Linked DNA regions of Homo sapiens: regions 1, 2 and 3 are each linked to region 4. Evidence: fine-mapped expression QTL. A gene starts in region 4. Each other region holds a variant in brackets. All regions are shown on one strand. Distances are from middle to middle. Region 1 overlaps EP400 (E1A binding protein p400). Region 2 overlaps EP400 (E1A binding protein p400). Region 3 overlaps ULK1 (unc-51 like autophagy activating kinase 1). Region 4 holds the start of NOC4L (nucleolar complex associated 4 homolog).

What was found.
Region 1: its variant is fine-mapped to the expression of NOC4L in CD4 T cells (BLUEPRINT, PIP 0.91).
Region 2: its variant is fine-mapped to the expression of NOC4L in whole blood (TOPMed, PIP above 0.99). The same link has a PIP of 0.9 or more in aorta, blood mononuclear cells, cerebellum, cerebral cortex, esophagus mucosa and esophagus muscle.
Region 3: its variant is fine-mapped to the expression of NOC4L in visceral fat (GTEx, PIP 0.96).

Annotation. Positions count from the first base shown.
Region 1 is chr12:132,061,052-132,066,051 of GRCh38, forward strand. It overlaps EP400 (E1A binding protein p400), which reads left to right. Exons shown (of 53, transcript NM_015409.5): 46 at 1,059-1,272; 47 at 1,415-1,650; 48 at 3,617-3,835. Among named protein-coding and RNA genes, the nearest start is that of SNORA49, 32 kb to the left of the region's middle. The variant A/AC (reference allele first, on the strand shown) is at 2,973.
Region 2 is chr12:132,079,445-132,087,414 of GRCh38, forward strand. It overlaps EP400 (E1A binding protein p400), which reads left to right. Exons shown (of 53, transcript NM_015409.5): 53 at 1-1,016. It also overlaps the pseudogene EP400P1. Among named protein-coding and RNA genes, the nearest start is that of SNORA49, 52 kb to the left of the region's middle. RefSeq lists enhancers at 3,440-3,941, 5,358-6,218, 5,760-5,809 and silencers at 4,600-4,679, 4,700-5,149, 6,994-7,170. The variant G/A (reference allele first, on the strand shown) is at 3,928.
Region 3 is chr12:131,911,032-131,916,031 of GRCh38, forward strand. It overlaps ULK1 (unc-51 like autophagy activating kinase 1), which reads left to right. Exons shown (of 28, transcript NM_003565.4): 13 at 911-1,058; 14 at 2,167-2,227; 15 at 2,716-2,805; 16 at 3,321-3,446; 17 at 4,052-4,200; 18 at 4,304-4,390; 19 at 4,860-5,000. Among named protein-coding and RNA genes, the nearest start is that of PUS1-AS1, 15 kb to the right of the region's middle. RefSeq lists an enhancer at 4,759-4,928 and a cis regulatory region at 4,844. The variant G/A (reference allele first, on the strand shown) is at 2,391.
Region 4 is chr12:132,141,341-132,148,442 of GRCh38, forward strand. NOC4L (nucleolar complex associated 4 homolog) reads left to right here and starts at 3,117. Exons shown (of 15, transcript NM_024078.3): 1 at 3,117-3,265; 2 at 3,514-3,634; 3 at 4,219-4,325; 4 at 5,941-6,048; 5 at 6,293-6,442; 6 at 6,540-6,639; 7 at 6,732-6,766. The coding sequence starts at 3,149. It overlaps DDX51 (DEAD-box helicase 51), which reads right to left and starts at 2,979. Exons shown (of 15, transcript NM_175066.4): 1 at 2,653-2,979; 2 at 2,355-2,569; 3 at 1,388-1,538; 4 at 937-1,082; 5 at 779-850; 6 at 510-616; 7 at 158-266; 8 at 1-80. The coding sequence starts at 2,956. RefSeq lists enhancers at 1,065-1,970, 2,900-3,199 and silencers at 2,570-2,769, 2,840-2,889.

The DNA.
Region 1 (5,000 bases), 81 kb before region 4:
GTAGACTCATGGATGAACGCAGGAGCTCACTGGGGTTAGAAAGAGGAAATAAATACACAGGACAATAACATGCAAGCTGGGGAAGGGGCAGAGGGGCTGAAATGTGCACAGATCTCGTTACTGTTTAGGAAAAGCATGGAGTATTTAGACTTTGGCAAGCATCCGTGGTAATTCCAGACCAGCCACCAGAAGAATGAGAGCAGAGCGAGTTGCTCCCAACTGTGGCAGGGACATTGGTGAGGAAAGAGTCATCTGAGAGGAGGCAAGGAAGGAGATGAAAAGAAACATACAGCAGCTGGGTGGAATGGAAAACATGGAGTAACACGCTAGATTTCCATCCAAATGCGTAAGCAATGAGACATAAAAGGATCAAGAGAAACTAAAAATACACTGCACTTCGGAACCAAGGGAGCTGGCAGAGGTCAGCTGGAGGGACACTGCAGAGGTGGCATGATTGCGTTTGCCTTCCAGTTTATGGTGGGACAAGGAAGGACGGTGAGGCAAGGTGGGATAGGGTGAGGGGACCACTCTGGCTGCCACTTCTGCCTGCGGGCCAGAGTGGACTGCAGGGCACAGTGAGGATGCTCTGAATTTTAGGCAAGATGAAGGTAAGATGCCACAAGACCCCACGCACATGGTGAGACACTCAGGGCTGTAGTTTCAGCACAGATGGGGACAGTGGTAGAGAGCCAGGACTGTGGGCTGTGTGTTTGTGGGTAGCATGGGTGCCTCAAGGACAGTCGTTACGTTCCTGGGGACCAAGAGGTCTTTGTGCGGAGAGGGAGGGACAGGACGGCCTTTCCAGCATGTGCACGGGCGTGCCGCCATCTGAAGCGTGTTTCTGTGGGTGATGTGATCTGCTGGGAGAAACCATTGCTCAGGGCACTTGCTTGTGAATTTACACATGAAATCAGCAGTTTTCAAAAGACTGAACTCTAGCGTGTGTTTCACTTGTTTCGCCTCTGAAGTTGGGTGCTCTTGTCTTCCCTGCTCTGAGTGTGAACAGCCCTGAGTGCTGTGTGAAATATTTGATGAGGTCCTCTGTTTGCCTTTTCTAGACGCCGGGAGGCTCTGCTCCCGCCCAGGTGGTGCACACCCAGCCCCCGCCACGGGCAGTCGGCTCCCCAGCCACGGCGACCCCTGACCTGGTGTCCATGGCAACGACTCAGGGTGTTCGAGCGGTCACTTCTGTGACAGCCTCGGCCGTGGTCACTACCAACCTGACCCCAGTGCAGACCCCGGCACGGTCTTTGGTGCCCCAAGTGTCCCAAGGTAAAGCCAGGCTGGGAGCTTTCTCTGCCACACGTCTGCTCTGGCGCGTGTGAGGGCTCAGCTGCTGCTTGCTGTCTGAGAATGAGGATCTGAAGGTGGGCGAGTATCCCTGTCCAGACCTAATGAGCAAACCTCTTCATAGCCACAGGAGTTCAGCTCCCTGGAAAAACCATCACACCTGCACATTTCCAGCTTCTCAGGCAGCAGCAGCAGCAGCAGCAACAACAGCAGCAGCAGCAGCAGCAGCAGCAGCAGCAGCAGCAGCAGCAACAGCAGCAGCAGCAACAGACGACGACGACCTCTCAGGTGCAAGTTCCACAGATCCAGGGCCAGGCCCAGTCCCCAGCACAGATCAAAGCTGTGGGCAAGCTGACGCCGGTGAGCATTTCCCAGAGGACCATGAACGTGTGCGTCTTGCGGTCAGTCAGCCCAGCGTCTGTGAGACGGTGCCTGCTTGCATGGTGCAGTCCAGAGTGTATTTTGCAAACGTCTAGCACTGCCTTTATGTAGGACGCGTGCTTCGTTTTATTGGTCTAAAATTTCCCATGTCATAACACTTTGATCATGCCTTAGAGAAGTCTTACAGCTTATTCAGAGCACTTTGGAGACATTAACACCCAGCGTGCAAATGCGTCTTCTTGCTTAGGCGTCTTGTGCCTTGTGTTCAGCATCAGTCTCTAGGCCCGCTTGGTGTGGTTCTGGACCAGAGAAAGTGCTGGTGAGAAGATATTCCTCAGCAGTGTTGGGAGAGCAGGCGATGGACCCTGGGTTTGTTTCGATGTGGTTCACGTGCGGTACTGTTTCTCAAAGGTGGTCATTGGAGTACTGATGTACCTGATTTTTGCTAACCTCTGTACCAGCTTTGCTGTTCTTTATGTAAATATATTCATTTTCAAAGGAAATGTTGGGCCGGACACAGTGGCTCACGCCTATAATCCCAGCACTTTGGGAGGCCAAGGCGGGCAGAGCATTTAAGGTCAGGAGTTCGAGACCAGCCTGGTCAACATGGCAAATCCCCGTCTCTACTAGAAATACAAAAATTAGCCGGACGTGGTGGCGGGTGCCTGTAATCCCAGCTGAGGCCCAAGAATCGCTTGAACCTGGAAGGCAGAGGTTGCAGTGAGCCGAGATTGTGCCACTGCACTCCAGCCTGGGCAACAGAACAAGACTGTGTCTCAAAGGAAAAAAAAAGGAAATGTTATGTCCTACCATAAATGAAAAATCATTAATACTTGTCATAGAAAGTAACCAGAGACACATACGGAATAAAGACAAGACAATATTTTGAAGTTTCAGCTCACTGTTGGGCCTGCCGGAGTGCTTGAGTCTGGGCCTCTCCGTGGTCTGGAAGGGAGGAAGTGGGCTGCAGGAGACGCACACTCAGCTGAGGGCCCCTCCTGGGGCTGTCGGGAGGGCTGTCGGTGGAATTTAGACATTGAGCTTATCCTGTTCCTGTCACACCAGCCATCCCTCGAGGGCTGCATGGCCATATGTGGCTGTGGCTACCACCCTGGGCAGCCCCCGCCTAGCCCACTTGTATCCTGCGGGACGTGCCACTGGACAGTGCTGAATTAGAATGCTGTGCTCAAGAGTCCCAGGCCCAGCAGAGGCAACTGTCAGGGAGTCAGAGCCGGGCTTTGACCCCCCCGGCCCACAGCCACACAGGTACCTTGTCACCTGCCCCGGTTCAACCACTGATG[A/AC]CCCCCCCCCGGCCCACAGCCACACAGGTGCCTTGTCACCTGCCCCGGTTCAACCACTGATGACCCCCCGGCCTACAGCCACACAGGTGCCTTGTCACCTGCCCCGGTTCAACCACTGAGACACCAGTGCCGTCAACATCAAGGCTGCCACCCAGCCTTGGCTGCCAGGAGCTCTGTGTGCCAGCTGTTTGCCTGTCTCCTTCGTTCCTCACTCTGCCCTCTCCCAAATCCATTTCAAAACCAGTTCACTTCCAGCATTTCAAAAGAGACTTGATAGTCATGATCAACTCAGTATAGGTTTTCTTAAAAAATTTTTTCTTAAAATGTTTTTTGAACTTCAAATAAGTTTGGTTGGTGCTACAGATTTAAATCGACTTGTTTGTGAGGATAATAGAATTCTTTTTGCTATGAACTTATCAGTCAGAATCCGTGTTTGTAGTTTTCACCGACGAATGCACATTTTTAATAAATGAACACCTGGAAGATACTGGGCAGCCCATGGAAGGCGGTCTGGATGCTGCACGGTAGCAGGTGTCTGCTTTGGTATTTAATGGGCAGTAGAGGGGTGGCTTAGGAACAAGATGTCTACTTAAAGAATGGAGCACAGTTAATGTTGAAGAGAAGATACTTTGCTTGTATTTTAGGAACACCTCATCAAAATGCAGAAGCAGAAACTGCAGATGCCCCCGCAGCCCCCACCGCCACAGGCCCAGTCTGCGCCCCCGCAGCCAACAGCCCAAGTGCAAGTGCAGACCTCGCAGCCGCCGCAGCAGCAGAGCCCCCAGCTCACGACGGTCACGGCCCCAAGGCCTGGTGCCCTGCTGACGGGCACCACCGTGGCCAACCTCCAGGTGGCCCGGCTCGTAAGTGTCAGTTTCTGTTTGTTTTCCAAAAGCAGCATCTTTTTATGTTTTAACACAGCTGTTGCGCTTGCTCAGGTGCGTGTCACGTGTTACAGGAGTGAGTGTGAGACGGGTTCTTTTCCCCGAGAACTTAGTACCCCTTGGACAGAGGACGGGACTCACCACTCGTGGAACATTAACACAGCAGCAGCTCCCAGAGCCCATCCAGGCATCACCAAGCTTCTCAGGGCTTGAATTGAGGGGGGTGGAGAGTGAGCGAGGTGAGATGCAGCCTGCGTGGCTTCCCTGTGCTGCTGAGGGACCCTGCAGGGACCAAGGCCTGTGTGGCTGGAGCAGAGGGCGCTGTGCATGTAAGCCGTAGGCATGGGCAGGTGGCGGTCTCTGAAGCTGCTCTCAGGTGACCGCTGTAGGCAGGGAGAGCATTTGGAGATTTCAGAAGGGACTAGCATCAGGCGCAAGTGCTGTCTGGGAAGACTGGCTCTCAGCAGGTGCCAGCGTCCCGGGGCAGGCAGCGTCACTGCACCGTGACTAGAGCTCAGCTAGGGGTACTGGTGACAGCTGCCCTGTTGGAGGCTCACCCTGAGCTAGACTTTGCCCTTCGTTCTCTTGTGTCTTTCACCTGGCCCAGTGCTCATGGACTGCCCCAGGCAGGGATAAGGGTCTTACTATTAATTCCATTTTACAGGTTAAGAAACTGAGGCATGTAGGCTAAGTTCCCACCCAAATCCCACAACCAATCAGCTGCAACTCAAGCTAGGATTTGGGGACCCAGGTGCTCAGGCTAAGCTGTGTGGGTGCTGGACCCCCACTTTGGGTCTTCCCTGGGAGGGGCTAGCCCTCCACAGCAGAGTGAGTAGAAGTGGATAAAAAACTACAGAAGGGTGCTTGGTTTCATTCATGTTCACAAAAATGCAAATTCACTGAGAAGGGTGGTAACACCTAGTGGTAGCCAGGGTACCGGGTTCTTGTTGGACAGGAATCAGTGGCCTCTTTTTGGAGAGGATTTTGGTAATTACGCTATGAAAATGTGCACGCTTATTTAACTAAACACCCCCTTATGTCCTGCAGAGATAACTGAACATTTACAAAGTGATGAATGTACAAGCTTGTTTGCTTCATGAGTGTTAGAGGAAATTAAATGTCCATTACTAAGAATTTCATTAAG
Region 2 (7,970 bases), 61 kb before region 4:
CTCCTCCTCATCCGCAGATGTGATAGAACTGAAGTATCTAGGAATTCTGCCTTTGTCATTTGTTTTAATTTGTGTGCCCTGTTCATTTTTTTTGTCTTTCCCAAATCTTGGTAGTCTCCTTATAGTTGAAGATAAAATGTTGAGTGCACTTATTTTAGAATATCCTAGACATAACTGTCTAAGTAAAAGCGCTCTATTAATCTAAAACACTACAAGAGAATTTAACACCATCTCTCAAATGCTTTTTTGGAGAGCTTAATGGGATTCTGAATATTTGCAATGTGGAGTTTCCGCCCCGATCTCACGTCAGTGAGGGTCTCCTGTCTCTCAAGTGTGTTTCCTTTGGCTGTTCCCTAATACAAAACACGGACATATTTTTACTCGTAGCACTCAATTTAGTAACTTCTAGATGCTACCGTTGACCTGAGTTAAATTCATTTAGTCGTGTACGTAAAAACTCTCCTTTTAGTGTGTTATTTTCTTGGCCTTCCCTTTTAAAGGTTAAAGTTTCTAACCTAAGAATTAAGTACGCGTTCAGGAAGCTGTTGTCTAGGCCTTCCCCTTGTGAATCTGGGTTCATTCCAATACGGCAAGTAAGAGTTGGAAACTTTGAGAACACAGACTATAAAGGCAGCAGCCCGAACACTGTCAGACTCTAATTGGCGACCCTGGGAAACAGTTGCCCTGCTATTCTTTAAAGAAAGACGTTTATTCTGATGATAAAAACAGTTAGCCAGACTGTTTTTAAAGCACCTGGCGGGAAGCAGAAGGTTGGATCCAAGCCCTTGTTCAGATTTGGTGCCTGATAAGACAGGGGTTTCTCTTTTTGTGACCTTTATTATTATTATTTTGTTAACTGTTGTAACCAGTTAGCTGTTGTGTTTTAAGATAGAAAGGAACAAGACTAAAATTGTAAATACTTTGTAAACATCAGCATTTGTACTTGAATAGTAGGATTTTAAAGGGCATTGATAGCATACCAAACAAAAGGCAAAATAAAGTGACCTTTTTATATATTTTTTCATTTTGTCTTTCATAGAAAACTGGTATTTAAGTTAAATGAGATGCTGAATTTTTCATTTGTGTGAAGAAAAAACCAACAAGTAATGTTGGAGCCAGAGGTGTTCCCCTCACCCACTCTTCCGTGGCCATAGAAGGACCTGGAAGGAACAGAAATCACATTCACCAAGTCCACCAGGCAGCCGCTTCCCAAAGCCGCACGTGGAGGAAAGAGCTGGCACCGCCCTGCCCCATGTGGCCTGCCACCCTCACAGCACCCGTCGTCAATGTCCTGGGGGCCACACTGGCACCAGTGTCCTTCCACACCCAGTCTGTGTGCCCAACTGGCACCAGTGTCCTTCCACACCCAGTCTGTGTGCCCAACTGGCACCAGTGTCCTTCCACACCCAGTCTGTGTGCCCAACTGGCACCAGTGTCCTTCCACACCCAGTCTGTGTGCCCAAGTAAGGGCAGGGACACCGGCTCACAGGTGCTCACCACCGAAAACGCCTGTGAGCAGATGGCCTGCGAGTTGTTGCTTCTCTTTTTCTTCTGCTTTTAGACTTTTCTTCGTTTCGTTTTAAATCTGATTACAAAAATCAACGTACACTTTTAATTGAAAACGCACACATTACGCAAAGTAAAGAAGCATCCCAGAAGCCCCTTAGTTTCTGTATCTTTTCTCCCACCACAAAAACGGGGGTGCACGGGCACTTGGCCCTGCAGCTTTGGGCTTCCACCTCCGGTCTTCCAGATTGAAAGCTCCCAGGGTCTGGTTGCACACTTCGTGTCTGCAGGTGATAGTGCAGATACCAGGGTGGGCGAGAAAGCCAGCTGCAAAGCCCGGCTGGTGCTCCCTGGCCTCTGGGGGTCTGTACTGCAGTGCCTGGTGCACCTGCGGCTCCATGCCTACCAGCCACATAACCAGGGGCAGGTGACTTCCTCCTTCAGGGCCTCTGTGTCCCCATGTCCCCTCTCCTAAGGTGGCTTGAGGATCCAGTCCAATGTTGGGTGCTGCACTTGGTGTCTGTCTTTTATACTCCCAACGAAGAGGACTGCAGGTTTTGCAAAGCCTACTGTTTCTGTCATCCTGACCCTACCATCACGTCTTTGCCAAGTGTGCCTGTGGCAGCAGGCCCTATGGCGGGCTTATCTGGCCTGGAAGCTGTGTTTCTGTTTGCTGTCCAGTAGCGACCAGGGGCCAGTGGGTGAAGCAATTGTGCCTGCGCACAGCCGTCAAGACCTTAAGGTAGCTTCTGAGCCCGGAGTGTGTTGTGTCACCTCCTACTCGAGATGTCAGATCGTGTGACAGCTGCCCACCAACACCCCAGAGTTGGGCATTGTGATCCAGGGCAATGGGAGGGGAGATTCCTTTGCCATAGGGTGCCCTGCTATGCTGTTGCTGCAGCATCTATTCCCCTAATTTTTCTAAAGTTCCCATTTTATTGGGTAGATTATGCTATATACATTCGGTGGAATGCAGTGCAGCCTCTACAAAGTACAGCTGTGCTGGGGGATGAGTTTGTGAAGTATGCTACCAGGATGGAACTGGTTGTATGCCTGGATGTGCATAGAATATCCTGGAAGTATTTGCCCCTGCATGTGGTGGATTCTACGTCCATGAGTTCAACCGACCAAGGAGCAAAAATATTCAGAAACAAAAATGTGTCTATACTGAACATATACAGACCTTGTTTTGGGGGGGTTATTATTTCCTAAACAATGCTGCATAACAACTATTTACATGACATTTACATTGCATTCACTATTGTAAGTAACCCAGAGATGATTTTAAAAAGATGTTTTTGAGTTATATGCATTTTGCATCAGGGGCTTGAGCCTCTCGGAGTTTGGCATCCATGGGAGGTGCTGAGGGACGATTGTACGTTGTGTTAGCACTGCCTCTGTGGAGGGAGAGACTGGGGGGCAAGGATCAAGGCTGCTGATCTGCACTGTTATGCGCGTCCTTTTAACTGTTCAGGTAGTTTGCCAAGTGCATGAATTTTTGTGTGGTGGGGGCGGGGTGGGGGTGGGGACAGTCTCACTCACTCTGTCGCCCAGGCTGGAGTGCAGTGGCGTGATCTCAGCTCACTGCAACCTCTGCCTCCTAGGTTCAAGCGATTCTCCTGCCTCAGCCTCCCAAGTAGCTGGGATTACAGGCGCGCACCACCATGCCTGGCTAATTTTTGTATTTTTAGTAGAGATGGGCTTTCACCATGTTGGCCAGGCTGTTCTCGAACTCCTGGGCTCAAGTGATCCGCCCGCCTCGGCCTCCCAGATTGCTGGGATTACAGGTGTGAGCCACCGCACCCGGCCATGAATTAATTTTTAAAATAAGGCCCTATCAGCTTTTTTGTCACATGGTCCCCTACTCGGGAACCTTTATTTCCGACCTCCTGCCTGATCTTGTGTAGCCACCTACACTCCGACCAGCCCCCAGAGCAGCATCGTTCTGCCCCCTGTGCAGCCTTTCCTGTCTCCCTGACTTTGTGCTCGTCTCCTTTGTTGTAAAGTATTTCTCCTACTTTGAAGACTACTCCCACTTAACTAAGTGTGCATCCATTCATTCATTCATTTATTCATTTCTCCCCAGTGTTCTCCTCCAGTAGTATCTTGGGCTGAACAACAGTATTTGTCTTATTTCTCCAGCTGTAGTGTGGCTCTGTTTTATCCCTATTCAATGAATATTTAATGTAGCATATTTCATGCCAACTTTACCACTAGTGCTGGAGTGGCGGAAGGACAACACTTGGCTGTTTAAGAAAATCAAAGCTGGCCGGGCACGGTGGCTCACACTTGTAATCCCAGCACTTTGGAAGGCCGAAGCGAGCGGATCACGAGATCTGGAGATCGAGACCATCCTGGCTAACACCGTGAAACCCCGTCTCTACTAAAAATACAAAAAATTAGCCGGGCGTGGTGACGGGC[G/A]CCTGTAGTCCCAGCTACTGGGGAGGCCGAGGCAGGAGAATGGCGTGAACCCGGGAGGCGGAGCTTGCAGTGAGCCGAGATCGCGCCACTGCACTCCAGCCTGGGCGACAGAGCGAGACTCCGTCTCAAAAAAAAAAAAAAAAAAAAAAAAAAAGCTGATCAGAGAGATGGATGAATTACTGGTTTATTCAGCTGTTTATAAAGTACATACTATGTGGCAGTTTAGACAACTAGGCTATACTTGCCAGCAAAATAAAAAAGGGGGTTGCATCCTAGCAGGTCAGATAAAATAATTCAGGGGATAAGTACCATGAAGAAATGGACAGGTGGTAAGTGATACGGGTTTCACTCTTAAATAGATGGGCAGGTTATGCAGTGGAAGGCGCCTGATGCACAGCTCCAAAGCTCACCCGTCTACAGTGGACACGACGAAACCAGGGACATGTCCCACCATTTCAGTGGTCACAGGCAAGAGTCTTGTGGATCTTCGGATCCCACGTAACATCTCATCTCCCTAGGCACCCCGACTCCCCTGCCCAATTTAAAACAGACCTCAGCCTGCCCCATCCCGGCTGCTTTGCCTGGTGCTCTTCTAACTGCATGTTTATCTATCCTCCCCGCCTAGACTGTAGGGCCCGCGAGGGGAGCCGCTAGCTGTGCTTGTCAGTGTGACCAGCGCTCAGCAGGTGTCCGGCGGGAGGGCGGGCAAATACAACTCAGTGCCCACGTGCGAATGAATGAACAAACTAGTTCCGGGCGGAGCCAGAGGCGCGCGCCGGCGCGGACCGAGGCCCGGCCCTATCCGCCCCGCCCCCTCCGCCCCGCCCCCTCCGCCACGTCCCTCCGGGTCCGCTGGGCGCTGATTGGTCCGAGCCTCGCCTGCGCAGTGCCGGGCCGGCTCCCGCGCTTGCGCACTGGCTCCGCGTCGGCCGGTCGGTTTGGTCGGTTGTAGTGGCCTCGCCGCCCGGTCCGCTGTCGCAGCGCTCATCCGCGCCGGGAGCCCTTGGCTGCGTCGCCCGGCAGCCGCGGTGAGTGACGGCCCGCGTATCCGCTGCCGGGGCTGTGGCGGGCGTGAGGGGTTGGCCCTACCCTCGGCCCCCGACCGCCCACATCCGCCGGTTACCCTCGAGGCTCCCCGGCCGCGCGCTCCCCTCTCTCCGTCCCATCACCCGGTGACCCCGGCTGAGCGAACGCCCACCCCTCCCTCAGGGACCCCCTCCCCGTGACACGATCCCCCGTGAACGCCCACCTCCCTCAGTGAACACTCCCCCGTGACATGACCCCCCGCAAACGCCCACCCATCCCTCGGTGACCCTGCGCCCGTGAGCGCCCACCCCTCCCCCTGCGACCCCTCCCCCCGCCACCTGGCAACTGCCGTTTTCCCGCCTTCCCTCCTCCGCCCCCTCTCCCGCATCACCCCGTTTTCTGGTGACCGCTCCCCCCCATCCCGTGACACAAACCCCCGACCTCCCAGCCCTTCCCCGGTGACACGATCCCTGTGACCGTCTGGCCCGGTAACCGCCCCTCCCCTCATGACCCTTCACCCAGTCCCCTGGTGCCCACCCCCGTCACTGCCGCCCGCCTGGTTCCAGCCTCGCGAGACCGCTGTCTACGGCGCTGACGCCGCCTCTGCCTCTTGACCCCTTGGCCCCGCTGTCCTGATCCCTGAGGTCGGGGCCTGGTCTGCACTCCAGGAAAGACGAGTGCGCTTAGTGTGCGCTGCACGTGAGCAGTGAAGTTGATTCCACGCGCTGCGCTGCTCGGCAGCTGTCCCAGAACTGACCACGGACCCCTCCGCGGGTCCTGCTCCTGACAAGGGCCTTCCGGCACTGGGAGTTTTGTGTTAGTGGAAAGGAAGAATCTAATAATACCACCACCTTTACAGTAAAGACGCTGCGAATTGACGCCTTTTATAATAAAGACACTTATCTTGCCCAAGAGCTGGGTGAGTATTTCCTCCTTACCAAAAAGTTGGTTTACTTACAGTTAACTGGCTGAAAGTTTGAGTCTTAGGCTTATTTGTGCCGCTCCAGGCAGGCTGATTGGCGCTGGTTTCCATCTGTCAGATTGGACAGCAGTACCACTGGCTGTTGGGGGCTCACGACCAGATAGAGTCTTGTCTGGGAACCACAAGTGAGTGTTGTTACCACAGCTCTGCAGCAGTGAGGGCACCTCTCAATCCACGTGCAGTCGCCCCACCTTATCTTCAGGGGATACGGTCCAACACCCTCAATGGATGCCTGAAATCAAGGATAGTAGTGAACACTATATACACTGTTTTGTTATGCATCCTTCCATATCTACGATAAAGTTTAATTCATAAACTAGGCACAGGAAGAGATTAATAACAGCTAATAATAAAATAGAACAGTCGTAACAATATACTGTAATAAAAGTCATGTGAAAGTGATGTCTCTCTCCTAAAATATCTTACTGTATTGTACGCACATGTTTTTGAACTGCAGTTCACCGAGGGTTACTGAATCCATGGATAAGGGGAGATTACAGCAGTTTCTTTTCTGACTATGTTATTGAGACTTCAAAACTAACTAAATTGTTCGTTGAATGGAATTGTCCAAGGTGTACAAAATGACAGTTGTAACACAAAGGTGTTTCACTGACATCCCTGTCACGTTTTTGCTAAACTAATGCACTTTTAAAAATTATTATTTATGCTGGGTGTGGTGGCTTATGCCTGTAATCCCAGCACTTTGGGAGGCTGAGGCGGGCAGATCACCTGAGGTCGGGAGTTCGAGACCAGCCTGACCAACATGGAGAAACCCGTCTCTACTAAAAATACAAAAAAAATCAGCCAGGTGTGGTGGTGCTTGCCTGTAATCCCAGCTACTTGGGAGGTTGAAGCAGGAGAATCGCTTGAACCCAGGAGGCGGAGGTTGTGGTAAGCTGAGATCACACCACTGCACTCCAGCCTGGGCAACAAGATCGAAACTCCGTCTCAAAAAATATATATATTACTTATAAAAGTCTGTACTTCATGTTCAGTCACAGTAGAGACAAGTAGAAACTCCCTCCTTCAACAATACCTAGCACTCAAGGAGAGATGGCCTTACAGAGTCAGCATGTGGTGCAGAGGTCTCTTGGCCATGATTTTAGGTCCTCCTGGGTCCACATCGTCCCACCTGGCCATGGATACGTTGTCATCTGATCTGTTCACTGTTAAGGTAACAGTTGTCATAACTACTACAAAATGGTTAAGTGTTAGGACTTTAATGATGGTGATCATGTAATAAAGGGCCTGGAGGATAATGGCATGCTTACGAATTTTCTGGGTGGTATTCACATGTTTGAAAAAGCATTGAAATGTATGATTTTGGGTGATGACTCTGAGAAGTATGGAGCATGACCCATTTTGAATAGGAGAACAGAATGTTGTAAAGTGATTCTTGGTCCCCTAAGAGTCCATTGACAACCACCATGTAGAGGAAAAATGGCAAAGAATGGGCTCTCTCCAAAGTCAGGTGCTGAGGCCCTTCTAAGGAGGAAAAGCCAACGCCCTTTCACTGTGGTTTCCAGCTGCTACAGGAACAAATAGTGTCTATCTGTGTCCAGCTTATTTTTTGACTTCTTTGAGTCTGAAGATACTTTGAAAAACTTTGATTTGCCAGAGTAATTTTTTGTACCTTGGAATGAGCCATATTTTTAATTTGCTTTTTGATGTTACAAAATGTACCCTCATAAGAATTCAAACAATACAGAAAAATAAGTCCTTTTCAGTCCTTTTGTGCTGTAATAACACCCTCCATCTTTTTTTCCATTTCAGTTAGTAATATGTCTTCAACATCTGCTCATGTCAGGAAATAAAAATTTATTCTCTTTTTTTTTTTTTTTTTTGTTTCGAGACGGAGTCTCGCTCTGTCGCCCAGGCTGGAGTGCAGTGGCGCGATCTCAGCTCACTGCAAGCTCCGCCTCCCGGGTTCACGCCATTCTCCTGCCTCAGCCTCCCGAGTAGCTGGGACTACAGGCACCCACCACCATGCCTGGCTAATTTTTTGTATTTTTAGTAGAGACGGGGTTTCACTGTG
Region 3 (5,000 bases), 230 kb before region 4:
TCCTGTCTTTGGTTTTGTGCTGACGTGGACAGAAGCAGCGTGTGGCCTTGGCCCACTGACACCTGCACCCCTGGCCTCCCTCGTGTCTTCCATTGGACTCAAAGCATGAGTAGGGTTGCAGGGTGATGGCCCCACATGATGATGGCACTCCTTGTGTGACATGGGAGGGGTCTGCAGAGCACCTGAGTCGGCCATGAACCCCCGTCCCTCTGTCCATCTGACTGGGAGCCTGGCTCTCAGGCATGGTGTTGTGGCTGGTGGTGATGAGTTCATGTCTGGGCTCTCCTGGCCTGGCCCCCTGCTCTGTGACCAGGGACCGGTCCTCTGACCTTGGTTGTCTGCCTGTATCATGGCCGAAAGCTCAGATGTGGCGAGGGGAGCGTGGCAGCGCCCTGCTGTAGGGAGCTGTGGCATCCGCAGACCTGCCCTGGGGCACTTGGGGCTTTAGCCACCACCGCACGGATGGTGTGCCCTGGGCCTTAGCATGGTGCTGGCCTCAGAGCAGGGCCCACCGGGGTGGCAGCCTCTCCACTGGACACGCCTTCCATGGTACCTCGTTCTCTTGGCTATGCCGATGGAAAAGTGAGGTGCAGAGGGCAGGTGGTGAACAACTCCCCAAAACAGGGCCTCCCAGAGCTTCTGGGAGCTGAGGGCTTCAACCCACCCAGGCTGCATGGTGAGAGTGGCTCGTCGGGGGGCCTGTCCCTGCGAGGTCAAAGCTGGCCTTTGAGTGGAGTGCTCTGGAAGTACAGAGAAGAGCGGAGCACAGGAAGAAAGACGTGCCCAGCCCTTCTCAGCCCCAGCGCCCCGATCTTTACTGGGGCTCTGGGCCATCCCAGGAGGGGGAATTTGCTCCCCTGAGTGTGTAGGTCCCTGAGACCTGCTCACCAGCCCCTCCGTTGACTCTCAGTCCCTGGGCGAGATGCAGCAGCTGCAGAAGACCCTGGCCTCCCCGGCTGACACCGCTGGCTTCCTGCACAGCTCCCGGGACTCTGGTGGCAGCAAGGACTCTTCCTGTGACACAGACGACTTCGTCATGGTCCCCGCGCAGTTTCCAGGTCAGGGGGCACGCTGGGCTTGGAGGTGACGCCTCAGGTGCGGCGGGGACAGTGCATTGCATGTGTTGGATGCACAGTGTGTAACACATTTCCACTTATGGGCAGTTAGGATGGGCCCCTGGGAGCCACCGGCATCGGCCCAGCTTGGTTGGGGAGGCCGTGTCTGTTAAAACCACTCCTGGAATCAAAGCCGGGTCCTCCTAGTGGTCAGTAGGAGGTCGGAGGCCATAGGCCTGGTCTCCTTAGACAGTGCTGCTCTTCGGATGGGTGGGGGCCGCTCACCTCATGCCCCTCCCCCGCCATGTACCCCTACCTTGTTTCTCAGCAACTCTTGTTGCCTCTACACCCTGCAGGTGGGTTTATTCCTTGGCTTTTGGGGAACCCCCCGCTCCATAATGGCCAGGGGCTGCCCACGTGTTTGTTGAATGAAGGTGCCTAAACTTTTGGAGCAGGCCTGGGGTCTGTGGCTCCTCTGAAGGCCCTGCACTCTGTCCCTGGCTGTCCCAAAGCTCCTGGAGGTCTGGGTTGGCACTGGTCCCCGTGTCTGCCAGGGACACAATGACTCATGCCGAGCCCTCCGCCTCTCCCATCAGCATGGCTTCTGCGGGGGTGGTGAGGCCCGAGCCAAGCCCCAGACAGACCCGGGGAGGGCCTTGGTCCTTTGCCAGCTGTCAGGGCAACAGGAAGACGGACACCAGGGGTAGGGCAGAGCCTCCTTGGGGGTGGGAACCTGGGTATTCCTGGAGGGGGTTGGGCCCAGACTTAGGGCTGTAGATGCCTGACCTCCCCCGCCCATCCTGGAGTTAGCTAAAGGCTGGGGGGCAGGGCCCCAGGGGTCTCTGGGGCTGAGGAGACAGGAGGCGCAGAGTCCAAGTGGGGATAAGCGGGGGCAGGTAGCGCTCTGGTCTCCCGGAGCTGGCCTGGGGCTGGCAGGGAGGATGCAGCCTGGACTGTACCACCCAGGCTCTGCCCCCCGCAAGGCCGCTGTACGAGCTGAGGCCCCTGCAAGGTGGAGTGTGCGTGGGGATCCAGCAGAGAGCCTCGGTGGGGTGGGGTGGCCCTGGGCAGGCGGCAAGGACTCCAGGCCCAGCCTTGTCTCCCCCTGCAGGTGACCTGGTGGCTGAGGCGCCCAGTGCCAAACCCCCGCCAGACAGCCTGATGTGCAGTGGGTGAGCCCCCATCCCTTACCTCTGTATTTTAGGGGAGAGAAACTGTGGCCTTGGAAGTGGCCCGTGTTATTTACAATGAGCCGAGATCGCGCCACTGCACTCCAGCCTGGGTGACAGAGCGAGACTCTGTCTCAAAAAAAAAAAAAGTAAATGCCGTTGGCCC[G/A]TGGTGGCTCACGCCTGTAATCCCAGCACTTTGGGAGGCCGAGGCGGATGGATCACAAGGTCAGGAGATTGAGACCATCCTGGCCAACATGGTGAAACCCCGTCTCTACTGACAAAAAAAAGAAATGCAAAAAATTAGCCAGGCGTGGTGGCACATGCCTGTAATCCCAGCTACTCGGGAGGCTGAGGCAGGAGAATCGCTTGAACCCAGGAAGCAGAGGTTGCAGTGAGCCGAGATTGCGCCACTGCACTCCAGCCTGGGTGACAGAGTGAGACTGCCCCAAAAAAAACAAAAAAATGCCCTTGGCCTCCCTTCTGCCCCACAGGAGCTCACTGGTGGCCTCTGCGGGCTTGGAGAGCCACGGCCGGACCCCATCTCCATCCCCACCCTGCAGCAGCTCCCCCAGTCCCTCAGGGTAAGCAGGGCCCCAGGCTGGGTGGATGGGGCTGTGAACAGTCCCCCGGCTGGAGGTTGGGCTTCCTGTGTGTCGCAGCCAGCCCAGGCCTGCTGTGTCCAGAGGCCCCTGCCTTCTTCTCCCAGGCCTCGCAGGATGGGGTCTGCTGGGTCGTCCTGCAGAAGGGACTATAGTGGGAGGAGCATTGACAGGAGTAGGTGAATGAGGAAACCAACCAGGGACGCCAGGGCCAGCACAGTCGAGCCTGTAGGGCCAGGAATGGCCAGGGCCCCGGCCAGGGTGGCCCCCCACTGGCTGGGTGCAGACTGGGAGTCCAGGTGGGGTGCAGGTGCCACATTTCTGGTGTGTGTAGAGGCATGGAAGCCGGCTCTTTTCAGACCTGGCATGGGTCTCAGGGTGGCCTCTGCCCTAACTAGGAAGTCTGGGCCTAGGCTTTCTTCTGGTGCCCCAGCTCCATGACCTCAGCCTCTTGTGACCCCAGTGTCTGTCATGATCCTGACCTCTCTCCACCACAGCCGGGCTGGCCCGTTCTCCAGCAGCAGGTGCGGCGCCTCTGTCCCCATCCCAGTCCCCACGCAGGTGCAGAACTACCAGCGCATTGAGCGAAACCTGCAGTCACCCACCCAGTTCCAAACACCTCGGTGAGTGTGGAGCCCCCAGGTAGCCAGGCGTGGCTGGGGCCTTGTGTGGCAGGAGCCCTTCCACGGCTCCCATAGAGGGACAGGGTCGTCATCCATGTGCAGTTGTGCAGGCTGCGCACTGCGTAACTCAGCACCACCATTTACTTTGTTGATGTCTTGGGTTTCTAGAGTTATTTTGACAGTTTTCTGATCAGTAAAATCTCTCTAGTTTATAAAATCAATATTGACTTTGGCCAGTTTTAACAGACAGAAGTAAATGGTGGGAGGAAAGGGTACCTTTCTTTTAACTCACAGAAGGCTGTGTGGGCCAGTGGGTGTCTGGCAGGGGATGGAGACTTTAGGGTGAGGGTGCCTTGGGTTGGCACCCCGGGCAGGAAAGCTAAGGGGCCAACTCCTCCCACACACCCACTGTGTGGCCGGTTACCTGGACAGAGTGCATTAGAGGATGAGCCATCTGTCAGCACTGTAGCCACTTGGCGTGGCATGGGGTCCTGGGCTGCTGGGGCCTCCCCTCCTAATACCTGCCTTGTCCCCAGGTCCTCTGCCGTCCACAGGTCAGGCAGGGCTGCTGAGGCCTCCCCTCCTAATATCTGCCTTGTCTTCAGGTCCTCTGCCATCCGCAGGTCAGGCAGCACCAGCCCCCTGGGCTTTGCAAGGGCCAGCCCCTCGCCCCCTGCCCACGCTGAGCATGGAGGCGTCCTGGCCAGGAAGATGTCTCTGGGTGGAGGCCGGCCCTACACGCCATCTCCTCAAGGTGCGCCTGCAGGCTGGGGCCTGGGAAGGGGCGTCTGTAGGCAGTGGGTGAGGAGGCTGTCTCTGTCCCAGCTGGACCCTGACAGATCTCTCTTTTCCCCAAGTTGGAACCATCCCTGAGCGGCCAGGCTGGAGCGGGACGCCCTCCCCACAGGGAGCTGAGATGCGGGGTGGCAGGTCCCCTCGTCCAGGTGGGTGCAGTCCGGAGGGGGGAGGGGGTGCTAGGCTGACCTCCCTCGCTCACGTTGTCATCCTGGTCTAAAGCCCTTGCTCTTTCCAAGTGAAAAGGAGTGGGAAGGAAGCTGGTGGAACAGAAGCCAACTGCCTCTCCACCTCCTGGCTGTGTGGGCTGGGGCAAGTTTCTTATCCCCTCTGTGCCAGTCTTCTGTGCTGGCTGAGGGTCAGGTTTAAGAGTGGCGCCTCAGCTACTCGGGAGGCTGAGGCAGGAGAACCGCTTGAACCTGGGAGGCAGAGGTTGCAGTGAGCCGAGATCATACCACCGCACTCCAGCCTGAATGACAGGGCGAGACCCCGTCTCAACAAAAGAAAAAGAGTGGGGCCTTGGAGTGCGTCTACCCCAAGGGGCTCCGTGTGGTAGCAGTGGGGCCTAGGGCTGGGCCGCCGGACCGGAAGGTCGTGACGAGGCGTGTCTCTCTCTAGGCTCCTCTGCACCCGAGCACTCTCCCCGCACTTCCGGGCTGGGCTGCCGCCTGCACAGCGCCCCCAACCTGTCTGACTTGCACGTCGTCCGCCCCAAGCTGCCCAAACCCCCCACGGACCCCCTGGGAGCTGTGTTCAGCC
Region 4 (7,102 bases):
CTCTGGAAGGCGGCCGCCACCACCCGCGGCAGCCAGGACTGATGCATGCTGTCAATCATCCGGTCAGCCTCGTCGATAATCTGCAGGAGACAGGGAGCCCGGGACTGGGTGGCGCGGCCCTGAGCTCAAAGCCCAGGCCCCTGGGGCGGGGACCTACCAGGAAGCGGAGCTGCTGGAGGCTGAATCCTGGGGTCTGGTCGATGTGGTCCACCAGGCGGCCGGGGGTGGCTACCACGATGTCAGCCAAGCAGCGGTACCCATCAGCTCTACAGACCAGAGAGCAGCTCGAGAGAAGGAAGCTTTCTCAAGGGCTTCCGGATAGCAAGACGCTGCCTCACCCCACAGCCCCGACTCCACCCCACATGGGAAGGGGGCCGGTGGGAGCTCCTCCTCTTCACGGGAACAGGTGGTTAAAGATGGTGGCCCCTCCTCTGCTCCCACGGTGCCTCAGGCCACCTGCAGGGCTGAGCAGGGACCCCCTGAAAAACCCGCACCCTGACACAACCTACGTTTTCTGGACGAGGCTCTCCTGCTCCTTGGCCAGAGACTTCTGTCCCGTAACCAGGGAGACTCTCAGAGGTGTGGCATCTGTGTAGATGTTGAAAACTTTGCTCACCTGCAGGAGAAGTCTGTCACTGGCCTGGAGGTAGCTGGTGTCCACCTACTGCAGCAAAAAGGACCCCAGATCTAATCTGGGTCCCCCAGGGGCTGATCGCTGTGCACTCAGCAGGGAAGCTGAGGCGGGCGGTGCCACGCTCCAGGTCTAGGGTCCACATACCTGCTGGGCCAGCTCCTTGGTGGGCAGCACAACCAGGGCACGGATGTGGCAGACCACTCTCGAAAGCAGGGCCTGAGGGGGAAGGAGCGCCTGCGTCAGCAAGGCTGTTACCTGTCCTCTGCACACCCGCTGTAGAGAAAGGGGACCCTCACACAGACCTGCACCACAGGGATGACGAAGGCCAGTGTCTTCCCACTGCCTGTTGGGGCAGAAACACAGAGGTCGCTAGGCCGGTAGCCACCTCTGCCCACCAGAAACCCACAGGCTGCGCTCTCCAGGAGGGCAGGAATCACAGCTGCCTGGACTGGATGAGGAAAGGCGAGAGAGAAGTCGTGTTTACGCCTAGGCCTAGGCCTGCCGCTTCCCTGCCTGTGACCTCTGGGCTGGGCTGCTCTGCTGGAGGCCTGGGAACCGCTCCCCAGAGGGATGGCACCAAGGCCCAGAGGAACGCCAGCCTCAGGAGACCCAAGTGGGAACCATGAGCTTGAGAGTGCTGAGACCACACTTGGCACCGATGTGGCAGGGACGCCTGACCCACGGCCACTCACAGCCTTGTGTGTGGGTGCCCAGGGAGGTGTTCCCTCAGCTGCCTGCCCGGGGCTGGGGCACCTGGAAAGTAGGACGAGATGCCGTGTGCCCGCAGCTGCTTCTGCAGGTCAGGATGGACGTCAGGGATGTCCTCGATAGGAACCAGGTCTTCGGTGACATTCCTTCTGACACAGTTAGGCTCAGCCAGCCACCTTGGCAGGAAAGGCTGGACCTGCCATCAAAAAGAAAGAGAGGCCAGGTGAGCGCTTTCCAGGCTCTCGCGCAGAAGCCCACGGTGGAAAAAGCTAGGGGAGGGAGGCTGGGGAAACCTCTGTCGTCTTCAGCTCCTTCTCAGCCCCAGGATGCGCTTTCCATACAGCCTTCAGAAGTTAAACAGTAAAAGCAGATGCCACTCCCTGAGCAAACTCACTCTGTAGCCTCCCATCAACCCACAGTGGCACCCACCCTCCCGCAGCCAGGAGGTCCTGTGACCTGGCGCTCGCCTGCCCCAGCCACGCCGGCGTCCCTGCCTCGAGGCCTCTGCCTGGCACCCCCAACCCCCAACCTTGACCTGGCTTCAAGTCTTTGCATCCCAACTCAAAGAGAACCTCCTCCACCTGCCCTACCTAAGGTGCCCGAGCACTCTGTCAAACTTCTCGCTTTCTTCACCTGTCTCGCCGGAAATCTCTTTACCGAAAACCACACGTGCTAAGCAAAAACACCAACGGTCAGGAGCTTGCAGAACGGCCTCTGACTTACTCCTGAGGCGGTGAGCGCACAGCAGGAAACCCCGCACGTTCACGCAAACACATCTTGCAGAACTGGCGCGGCGCGGCGGGAGGACAGGGGCAAGCCTAGCAGAGGAAACGGGAGCTCTGCACGTGCAGGATCCAGACCCCTAGGCGATGAAACTGCAGACCTGGCAGCGAGGCGCGGCTGTGACCCGGGAACATTCGCTGAACGAAATCTTCCGGGGCGACCGCCGCACTTAAGAATCCGCGCAGCCTACCCTCTCACGCCGACCACCCTCCCGCCCGCCGAGGCTCACCTTCGGCGCCTTCCTCTTCCCGAACCCCCCCAGCACCAGGCCGGGGACCAGGGGTCCGGCCGCCTCCTCCAGGGCCGGTCCATCTGGGGCCGCCTCGGCGCTGGCGCTGGTGCTGCGCTCCCCCGGCGCCTCCTCGCTGCTCCCTGCGCTGGGCTCCCCTGGCGCCTCCTCGCTGCTCCCTGCGCTGGGCTCCCCTGGCGCCTCCTCGTTGCTTTCTGCGAGGCAGACACCCACCCGGCAGCGCGTCAGCACCGAGTCGCCGGCGCCCCAGAGGGAGCCCGCTCGCCCCGCGGCCCACCTGCGCCCGCGTCCTCGCCGTCCGCCTTCCGTCGCTTTCCCTGCGGCGCCTCCGGGCTCCCCGGCTCCGCGTCGTTCACCCGCCGCCGCCGCCGGGGCCGCCGTCGCCTCCTGGTCGCCGGCTCGGTCGATGCAGCCGCCTCGGTCTGCGCGGGCTCCCGCTGCTGCTGCCGTTCGCGGGCCCGGCTCTGCAGCCGCTCGAGCAGCGCGCGGGCCCTGCCGTGCGCCCCGGCCTCCGCGCCCTCCGGCCCCGCCGCAGCTGCCGCATCGGGGCCCGGGTACCGCGCGACGTAGAACAGCGCCATGGCCAGCCGCACGCCTGGGACTCGGGCGTGGCGCGCTGCGATGACGTCGGCGGCACGCCTGCGACTCGGGCTCCGCGCAAAAGATGGGGTTGGGGTACGGCGCGTAGAGATGACGTCGGGTTCTACGCGCAGTGGTGACGTCACGGGAGCGCCGGCGGCTGAGAATCCGCGTTGTTCCGTGTTGGGGGCGGCATGGAGCGGGAGCCGGGCGCCGCGGGAGTTCGCCGGGCTCTGGGCCGCCGGCTGGAGGCGGTGCTGGCGAGCCGCAGTGAGGCCAACGCCGTGTTCGACATCCTGGCCGTGCTGCAGGTGGGCCTGGCGGCGTCGCAGGGCCGGAGTCGCGGCACGGGAGCGGGACTTGAATGGGGGGCTGCGGCGGCAGGTCCCCAGGAGGTTCCGAGACGGCGTTGGGGGGTCAGGGTGGGAGGCGTGTGGGTCACGGGTCGGGGGTGACGGGGCTGGCGTCCCGAGGGGGAAGGGAACGGGTTGGGGGCAGCCTAGGCAGGGGCGAAGGTGACAGTTGGCGGCCGGGCACCCTGCCGCCGCCTCTCCTGCAGTCTGAGGACCAGGAGGAGATCCAGGAAGCAGTCCGCACGTGCAGCCGTCTTTTCGGGGCCTTGCTGGAGCGGGGAGAGCTGTTTGTGGGCCAGCTGCCCTCTGAGGAGATGGTCATGACAGGTGAGCCCTGGAGGGCCCCGGGGCTGCTCTTCTCTTTCCGTGGGTCGGAGGGAGGCTTTGTCACCATGGGATGAGCGCCCCCAACCCTGGCACAGGCCGTGCAGGCTGGTGGGAGGACGCACCAAGCCCACCGTGGAAGATGGATGGTGGCGTTGGGGCAGGGGTGACATGGGTGCCCTGCAGCTGAGTGTAGATGAACACTGGACAAGGTACGACTTTTTGTGTGCTTTGCACCCCTTTTGTAATTTGATGTTGACTGATCCTGACACGGTCGCTTAAACTCGGAGCTTCCTTTATGTCCCCATCCTGGGGACGTCAGGTCTTGGAGTAAAGAGAGGGGATGTGGATCCTGCTCCTGGCAGCTTGGCTGGGGCAGTCCTGGGGTAGGAGGTGCTCTTCCTGTTTGCAGGGCTCAGGGAATGTGCTGGTCTCAGCACAGGTCTGGGGGCCTTAGCGACCTGTTTCCACCTGCGGAGGCTGAGTAGAAGACAATGGGAGGGTGGAGCCAGGCCTGAGATTTTGGGCTGGGCCCAGGGTGGCGTATGTGGGCCTCACGTGGGCTGACCACCCTAACCTGTCTGCAGGGTCCCAGGGAGCCACACGGAAGTACAAGGTGTGGATGAGACACCGCTATCACAGCTGCTGCAATCGCTTGGGAGAGCTCCTGGGCCACCCCTCCTTTCAGGTCAAGGTGGGTCATTGGGCTGGCCTCATCCTTGTCCATCCCCTGCACCCCAACTCCCAGGTTATCCACAAAGCAGAGGTCTGGGGCTCCCACAATTGTCCAGGCAAAGCTGCTTCCTTCATGGGAGCATCACCCTGTGGGTGTTCAGTCCCATTCAGAAACATGGCTATCGAGTCCTGTAGTGAATATTGAAGACGCAGAATCCGTGTTCATTTCCAGTGGCATCCACGGGGATCTCTGTGTTTGCATAGAGCACGCACACCAAGCCTCGTGCCAGTCCACAGATGTGTTTGCTCAGATCACACTGTGGTCTGCAGCCATGGGAATGCATTATGAGCTTTCTTAAAATCTGTAGTGAGGAATAACTGAGGCACAGTTTACCGTTTAAAGCTGAGAAGTTAGCATCTGTTACTGTGTTGTGCAGTGGTTGCCGCTATCCCAGAACATCTTTATCGCCCCGAAAAGAAATCCTGTACCAGTTACCATCGCTTCCATATCCCGCCCCTTTCCACCCCCAGCCCCAGGCAGCCACTCCTGGATCAGTGGTTACTTCCTGGATCAATGGGTTTGCTTTTTTTAGACGCTCCTCATAAGGGGGATCATACGGTATGTGGCTTCTTCCACTCATCGGCGTGTTCGAAGTTCGTTCTCTTTGTGGCTGAGTAGCAGCGCGTCGTATAGCACAGCACGTATCGTTCAGCCGCTCGTAGGTTGCTGGGCATTTGCGTCGTTTCCACCTTTGGCTGTTACGAACAGCGGACTGTGAACGTTCGCGTACAAACTCTTGTGTGATGTTTCTTTTGCTTGAATATGCCTTATCAGTGGAATTACAAGGCCACACAGCAGCTGTGTTTTTAATGTTCTGAGGAACTACAAGACTGTTTTCCATAGTAGCTGCGCTATCTTACCCTCCCCCTGGCAGCATTTGAGAGTTCCATACTCCACATCCTCGCCAACACGTCTGTCTATAATTATAGCCGAGCTGCAGACTTTTAAATGTTGGGGAGATACCACGTGAAAATAACCAGTTTCCACCTTCTCAGAAAGAAATAATCAGTTCTGTCAACACGGGGTCTAAGTTTGTTCATGGCTGCGATTGGCTGGAGGGAGAGTCAGAGACAGCTCTGAGACAGCCGTGTGCTCCTGTCATCCCGCACGAGGCTCTTTTGCTTTGTGGTGTCATTTGCCTGGGCCCTGAAAGCACTGAGTTTGCCACCCCGAGATGAGAGCTTCCAAGCCTGGGTCTGAGTTGGGCACCATGCTGGCATCACACGCCTGTGTTTTCACAGCTGTTCCCAAGGGTTATGGTGGCATTCCCGTGACACAGGTGACGAGAGAGCAGTCAGGTGGCCCATAAAGCAGACCTGGGCTGTGTACCCTTCCCCCGCCAGACTCTGTCGTGAGCACTGGATCTCTTTAACTAGAGATCTTGTCATCTCTACGTCATGGGTGGGACACGGAAGCCCAGAGTGGCATCTGGTGGCGTGTGGAGCAAGAGAAGGCCCGGCCGCCCTTTTCTCAGCTCTGGGCCTAGATGGGAGGGGCTCCCTGACTGGGCTGAGCTCTGGGCCCATCCGTGGGGTGAGGGCATCACAGCCACCCTGCACTGCCCCCTTCCCAGGAGCTGGCCCTCAGCGCACTCCTGAAGTTCGTGCAGCTGGAAGGAGCGCACCCCCTGGAGAAGTCCAAGTGGGAAGGCAACTACCTGTTCCCCCGAGAGCTCTTCAAGGTGAGGGCCTTGCTGGGGACTCCCAGAGGGCCTGGCTGGCTGGCCAGATCCCAGGATGGCCCCGTAGTGGGGGCGGGGCCTGCTGAGCTGAGCCTGGCTGTTGGCTGGGACACTCCTGTGGCTCCTGTGGCCCACCCAACCAGGAGGAGTCTGCCTGGGGGGCTCGATGGGGCAGGGCTGCCTGCCTGGACCTTGCTGGCGTATGCTGGGCCGGGCAGGGCTGCTCACTGGTCCTTGCCCCTAGTTGGTGGTGGGAGGCCTGCTGTCTCCTGAGGAGGACCAGAGCCTGCTCCTGTCCCAGTTCCGGGAGTACCTGGACTACGACGACACCCGCTACCACACCATGCAGGCAGCCGTGGATGCCGTGGCCCGGGTCACTGGCCAGCACCCCGAGGTGGGTGATGGGGTCCTGTCGCCAGCATCATGCTGTTGCCTCCCAGGGAGGCAGGGACTGGGGGGCGGCGTCCAGGCACTCAGGCCAGGCTCCGCAGGTGCCCCCCGCCTTTTGGAACAATGCCTTCACGCTGCTGTCTGCCGTGAGCCTGCCCCGCCGGGAGCCCACCGTCTCCAGCTTCTATGTGAAGCGGGCGGGTGAGTGTGCTGAGAGTCAGGGGCGGACAGGGCTGAGCCTTGGTCTGCCTCCCCTGCGGGTCAGGTGACCTTTGCCCTCGCTTTCCCTGCAGAGCTGTGGGACACCTGGAAGGTTGCTCACCTGAAGGTGAGTTGCTTCTGGAGAGCCGGGCACCCTCCCGGGTTTGGGGGTGTGTGTGGGGTGCATGTGAGACCCCATGGAGGCTGCCGCCTTCCTCACCAGAGGAAACTCCCAGGGTACAGGTGGCAGCTTGCACGGCCACCAGGTCACTCGAAGTGTGGGAGGTGACGAGACCTGTGAACTCGGGACCCTCCCTTGGGTCAGAGGCCACCGCCGCCTCTTGGAGTCAAGCCTCTGGTGCCACCTGTGGGCCCCGTGGGCTGTTTTGGGCGCAGCCCCCCTCTTGGCCATGGTCTTGCCAAAGCTGCTTTCTTGGCTGTTCTGAGACTCCAGCCTCGAGGG